2 separate regions of the Homo sapiens genome follow, and region 1 is linked to region 2. The links come from fine-mapping of genetic effects on gene expression. A gene starts in region 2. The other region holds a variant in brackets. All regions are shown on one strand. Distances are between the middles of the regions. Region 1 overlaps SMPD3 (sphingomyelin phosphodiesterase 3). Region 2 holds the start of SMPD3 (sphingomyelin phosphodiesterase 3).

Region 1 (2,841 bases), 81 kb after region 2:
TGCAGCTTCCATTTCTGCCCTTTCTGAGGCCCCTCTGCTTTGTCCTGGCCCAGACCTCTCCCCCCAGCCCTACATCTGGCTGCCTCCAGGACACATCCCCATTCACTCGCAAACCAGACTCAGCCTCTGCCCCGGGCTGCTCCTCTTCTGTGTTCTGCCATCCTGAAGCCAGAAGGACCACCTTGGCTGCTCTGTCCTGTGCCCGACCCATCCATTCCAGGCCCCTAGCTCACTTTCCAGATGGCCCTGGGTGCACCCCACATCTCCAGCTCCCTTGGCCCAGGCCCCCTCCTCTGCATCAGCCCTGCTGTGGTTTCAGCCACCCTCCTCGTCTGAGGCCAGGTGTGACTCCTCTTATGCCCTCCACTGCCTCAGGAAGTCTGAACGTCACCTTGTACCACCTCCCGCCCCCCTGCCCCCGCCACCCTTAGCTCCAGCTCTGCCCCAGCCACAACCCCGATGAGGGGCTCCTGTACCCCTGGCCCCTGCTTGTCTTGGTCCCACACTGGGTGTGGCCACACCACCTCATGGAGCTCCCTCAGCGGCCAGCCACACAATCCTCTCTTCCCTTCATGGGCTCCTCTGCCCTCGTGCCCAGGGTCTTGTCTGTCCATCAGACAGAGCACCAGGACAGCAGAGCTGTGGTGTGCCCAGCACACGCGGATCCCAGCGCGGAGAAGTGAAGTACGTGGGGCTGCCTTGGGGACAGGCCCAGCCGGAGAGGGGCCGGGACGCTGGAGGGACTCGCTGCAGAAATCAGCGGTCCCCTCCTTCCCGGAAGGCCCTCATGGTTTCCCGTATGGGACTTCAGAGCCTTCAGGGAAATGTGGCTCTGTGAAGGAAGGGACTGGAATCCCTTTTTCCTCACCTACAATAGAGCCTTATTCTGGACACCTCTTCCGTTGACAGTCTTTGCCCGCCAGGACTCAAAGGCACAGCCTTTCGTGTGATTGCTTGTTTTTGCAAGAGAAACACAAGGCTCTGCGGCTCCCAAGGCCACGAGCCAGGAATCAATGAGGCCCAGCAAATAATCAAGTGGATCTTGGTGAGATCACACGGCAGATGAGGAGGGAGAAGCGGGGCGGGAGGGAGCAGGACCTCGTCACTCCTCCGGCCAGTGGGTTCTTGTCGTGCAGGGCCCAGTCTGAGGCCTCCCTGCGAGTGTCCAACCCTGTCCGGGACACAGCGCGGGGCAGGTGACACCAAGTGTTGGATGAGTGAGAGGCTGACGCCTTAAGACCAACAAACAGGCGGCCGGGGAGAAACCGCAAAGACACCAGCCCCTCAGAAAGCAGCGCAGAGCAGCGCAC[AGCAGCGCACG/G]ACAAACAGATCCGACTGGAAGCTGCCTCTTAGACCATGTGAGCCTGTGACCCCGGCCCACAACTCAACTTCTGGCCTCAGTGTGTTCAACGGTAAAAGCAGCATCACTTTATCATGTGCCTGAGCCGTTGTAAGGACCCAGAAAAGTAATGTCCATGCGTCGCCACCCCACCCCAGCACGAGCCCACTGGGCCTGAGATGATCCTCATGGAGGAGGAGCAGTTGTTGCCTGAAGACGGCGCCCCCGTGTGGTCTTTTATTTATTTTGAGACAGTCTCATTCTGTCGCCCAGGCCAGAGTGGTGCAATGGGGCGATCTTGGCTCACTGCAACCTCCGCCCCCCAGGTCCAAGGGATTCTCCTGCCTCAGCCTCCTGAATAGCTGGGGTTACAGGCATGCACACCCAGCTAATTTTTTTTTTTTTTTTTGAGACAGAGTCTCACTCTGTTGCCTAGGCTGGAGTGCAGTGGCATGATCTTGGCTCACTGTGACCTCCGCCTCCAAGGTTCAAGCGATTCTCCTGCCTCACCCTCCTGAATAGCTGGGATTACAGGCACATACCACCACGCCCGGCTAATTTTTGTATTTTTAGTAGAGACAGCGTTTCACCATGTTGGTCAGGCTGGTCTCAAACTCCTGACCTTGTGATCTGCCTGCCTCAACCTCCCAAAATGCTGGGATTACAGGTGTGAGCCACTGTGCCCAGCACACCCGGCTAATTTTTGTATTCTTAGTCGAGATGGGGTTTCATCATGTTGGCCAGGCTGGTCTCGAACTCCTGAACTCAGGTGATCCACTTGCCTCGGCCTCCCAAAGTACTGGGATTACAGGCGTGAGCCACCGTGCTCAGCCTCATGTGGCCTTTTGAGCATGGCGGCTTCATCAGTGTTTTGTTTTTGCAGCAGAACCATCAATGCTGCGTGATCTCACAGAGCCATTCGGGGGGCGGGGATGCTGTTAGGCTAAGGTTTGGGTCTGTCTGTGGGCAAGAAGTGAATGGTGAACCTGTGGGGCTGAACAGCCAGACGTTCGTACCCCCAGGTGCTGGGGAAGGAAGGCTGTGCATTAGGGCTGGGAAGGGGATGAAGAGCTGTAGAAAGCCAGGGGCACCTGCTGCTGAGGACGTCCAGATGGAGGAGATAATACCAGCCTGACCGACTGCAGCAGTGAAGGAAGGACGGAGCCTGCCGAGGCTGTTGGAGCAGATGGGCTGTGACGTTTGGGCTGCTGTGAGCTCCACAGATGTGGGGCACCCACCCTGCGGCCCTCTGCCCTCAGCCAACAACTGGGAGAGGCAGTGTGTCCTGCCCAGCCACCTCCCTGGAGTGCTTTTTGGGTCTGGGGTCTCCTCATCTTGGGAAACTCAGTCTGGAATGGATTTGCATGGCTTGGGGAGGGTACAGAGGCACAGGAGGGAAGGAATCCCAGGGGCAGGGGATGAGGAGCTGGTAAGCGGCCTCTCTGTGCAGGGCATCTCTGTGGCCATCCCTCACCTCTCCTGGGCTGAGCACTGACAAGGGC
Region 2 (2,899 bases):
TTTTTTTTTTGAGACAGGGTCTCACTCTGTTGTCCAGGCTGGAGTGTAGTGGTGCAATCTCGACTCACTGCAACCTCCACCTCCCGGGGTTCAAGCGATTCTCCCGCCTCAGCCTCCTGAATAGCTGGGATTACAGGCACGTGCCACCACGCCCAGCTAATTTTTGTATTTTTAGTAGAGACTGGGTTTCACCATTTTGGTCAGACTTGTCTCGAACTCCTGACCTAGTGATCCACCTGCCTCGGCCTCCCAAAGTTCTGGGATTACAGGCGTGAGCCACCACGCCCGGCCCAATTCATTTTCAATTCAACAAATATCTATATTTATATCTCAATAGCTAGTGAGTGCCTACTACGTGCCAGATACTAGACACTGGACTGTAAGTATGAATAATATAGACATGGCCCCTCCCCTGTGGATCTTATAATGAGGAAGACGAGCACATAAACATGCAAGTAGAACAGGGGAAGTAGAGGGTGCTGCTCAAACACAGGGTGGGGCACTCAACAGACAGCCCAGCATCTAGATGTCTTCACAAAACAGGCAATGTCTAGGCTGGGGCTTGCCGACGAGTTAGCTGAGGGCAGGGTGGAGAGGCCCAAGGGAGTAGGAGGCTTCCCAGCTTCCAAAGAAGTTAAGAGTGTTGCAAAAAAGTGGAGTCCAGATCTTGAAGGGGAGAGTGGGCTTAGGTCCGGGGGCATGTGAAGCGCCCTCCGTCTGCTGCGCTGGGGGAGATGCTGCGGTATCCTGGAGTGGTGTGAAGGAGGCCAGGACCTGCGATGGGAAGACGGAGACGGGAAGGCCCTGGTGGCCCAAGGGATGACCAAAAGTGAAGCGCTCCTCTATGACAAGATTGAGACAAAAATAAAGGAATAAAGTTCTGAATGCGGTGGGAGAGTCTCCTCCGTCCTCCCTCACCTTTGCTGGGCAGGAACCAAACCTGCTTGCCCTCGGTTTGCCCCATCACCGACGGGTGTGGTCGGGGGCACAGCTCTTCGCCCTTCTTCTCAGATAGGAAAACTGAGGCCCAGGGTCCTGAGGCAGAAATCAAGGTTTTCTCCTCGAAATGGCCTCCCAAGAGGCTGCCCGGGGTCTCACACGATCCTTCGAGGGTCCTGCGGCCTGCCCCACGCCTCCGCCAGCCATCCTCGGCTGGTCGTCTTTGCTATGGAAACGGTCCTCCCGCCCTGCTCCGCGCCTCCGTGTCTTCAGTGCACTCTGGGAAATGCAGTCCCGCTCTGTTTGCCTACCCGCGGCGTGAGCCCACTCCGCGTCCTTAAAGAACTATAAGTCCCAGAAGGCTGTGCGAAACTCCGCCGGTCTCTGGGGGATGTGGTCTTGAAGGAGAGACCCAGGAACCTGCGGGCGGGGCCGGAGGGAGAGGGGAGGACGCCCCCAATGGGCAGACTCCTGGGCGGGGTCCGGGTCACCATTGGCTCCGGCGGCGCGAGGGAGGCGGGGTCAGAGGAATGAAGCGCGGAGCTGTTCGCCGCTCCAGGTGCTGAGTCTGAGGGAGGCTCCGGACCCGAGAGCCGCGAGAGCCGCCGCCGCTGCGGCCGCCGCCAGATCTGCGGCCGGGAGCCCGGGCTGTGAGGAGCCGGGAGGAGCGGGGTGCGCTGCCGGGCGCTGACCGCCCTCCCGCCCGCCGTCAGAGGTCAGTGCTGCTGAATTCGCTTTTGTTTTCTTGGGGAGCGGGCGAACCGAGGCGTGAGGGGCTGGGGAGTTGACGGGACGTGTTCTCGTTGCTCTCAGGACCGCGGGTCCCGGACAGCCGCCGACTGACTAGGGGCCTCCCGTGGCCGGGCGCCGGAGGTCGGAGCAGCTTGGGTTAGTTTTCGTTTTATCATGGAGAAGGCTCTTGGGTATGAGGGGCGAGGGCTGGGGGTCACCCCCACCCCCCATCTCTCCTGGGAGAGCGAGGAGGCTTGGACCCTCCCTCCCGCTGTGCCTGGCGACGGGGCTGCTCGGATTACTCAGGACGGGAGGATGAGGTGTTGTGGGATGAAGGGACTCGAGGCAGGGGGACCCCTCCCCGCAACACTTCGGCTGCTCGAGGTTACAAAGGAGTCTGGTGGTGATGGATGAGATCGCGGACCGCTCCCCTAGCCCAGACCCTCCCAGGGGTATTCAGGAAGGGCTGCTTGGGATGCAGGGAAGACCCTTGCCCAGGCCCCTTCCTCCACACTCGCCCCCCTCCCTATTCCCCCCTCCTCCCTTGGCCCTAGGGTTTTGTAAAGAGGAGGATCGAGGATGTGGAAGAGACAGAGGACTCTTACCCCTCCCACTTGGACCCTCCTAGGTTACTGGTGAAGGGTGGAATTGGAATGTGGCAGGGAAACGCTGGGAGACCCCTCCCCATCCTTCTCGGAGTCGCGGGTGGAGGAAAGCACTGACACTCGGAATCCCCCGCGCTCGGGCCCGCGCCGAGGGTTGGGTGGCCTGGGTGTGAGAGGTAGTGTAGGGGGATGTACGAGGACAGGAGGGACCCCTCCCCACCTCTCCCCACCTGGGCCTTATCTCCCAGGCCCTCCCTACCTGGATCCAGGCCTGGGGCTCTAAGTCGAGACGACCCGCCCTAGCCCACCACGCCCCGGGGACCGAGCCTCTGGCACCGCAGCTGGGGGCCAATCCCAGATGGGCATGTACAGAGCGGGACGGGGCGGGTCTCCCCTCAAGCACTCAAGAGCTCCAGGTAGACGCTACCCCCAACCTCGTGCCCGCGAATCTTTGGGGGCTGCTCCGCTCCGATGCAGGGCGCACCCCAAACCGAGGCTCGGGGACCTGCTTCCAGGACGCGCGGTGGCTGTTCCAAGGCATGGGGCTTTCGCGCTCGGCCCAGGCATCCTCGAGAGGACAAAGCGGCGGTCGCCGCACTGGCAGGCCTGCGCCGCGGGCTGGG

What was found. PIP is the estimated chance that this variant, and not a neighbour inherited with it, causes the effect.
Region 1: its variant is fine-mapped to the expression of SMPD3 in whole blood (INTERVAL, PIP above 0.99).

The regions. Positions count from the first base shown.
Region 1 is chr16:68,365,915-68,368,755 of GRCh38, reverse strand. All of the region lies in intron 3 of SMPD3 (sphingomyelin phosphodiesterase 3), which reads left to right. Among named protein-coding and RNA genes, the nearest start is that of PRMT7, 56 kb to the right of the region's middle. RefSeq lists enhancers at 35-234, 661-1,213, 1,214-1,767. The variant AGCAGCGCACG/G (reference allele first, on the strand shown) is at 1,311.
Region 2 is chr16:68,447,108-68,450,006 of GRCh38, reverse strand. It overlaps SMPD3 (sphingomyelin phosphodiesterase 3), which reads left to right and starts at 1,499. Exons shown (of 9, transcript NM_018667.4): 1 at 1,499-1,654. LOC124903705 (a long non-coding RNA gene) reads right to left here and starts at 1,167. Exons shown (of 2, transcript XR_007065097.1): 1 at 941-1,167; 2 at 1-842. RefSeq lists an enhancer at 1,132-1,181 and a silencer at 1,282-1,801.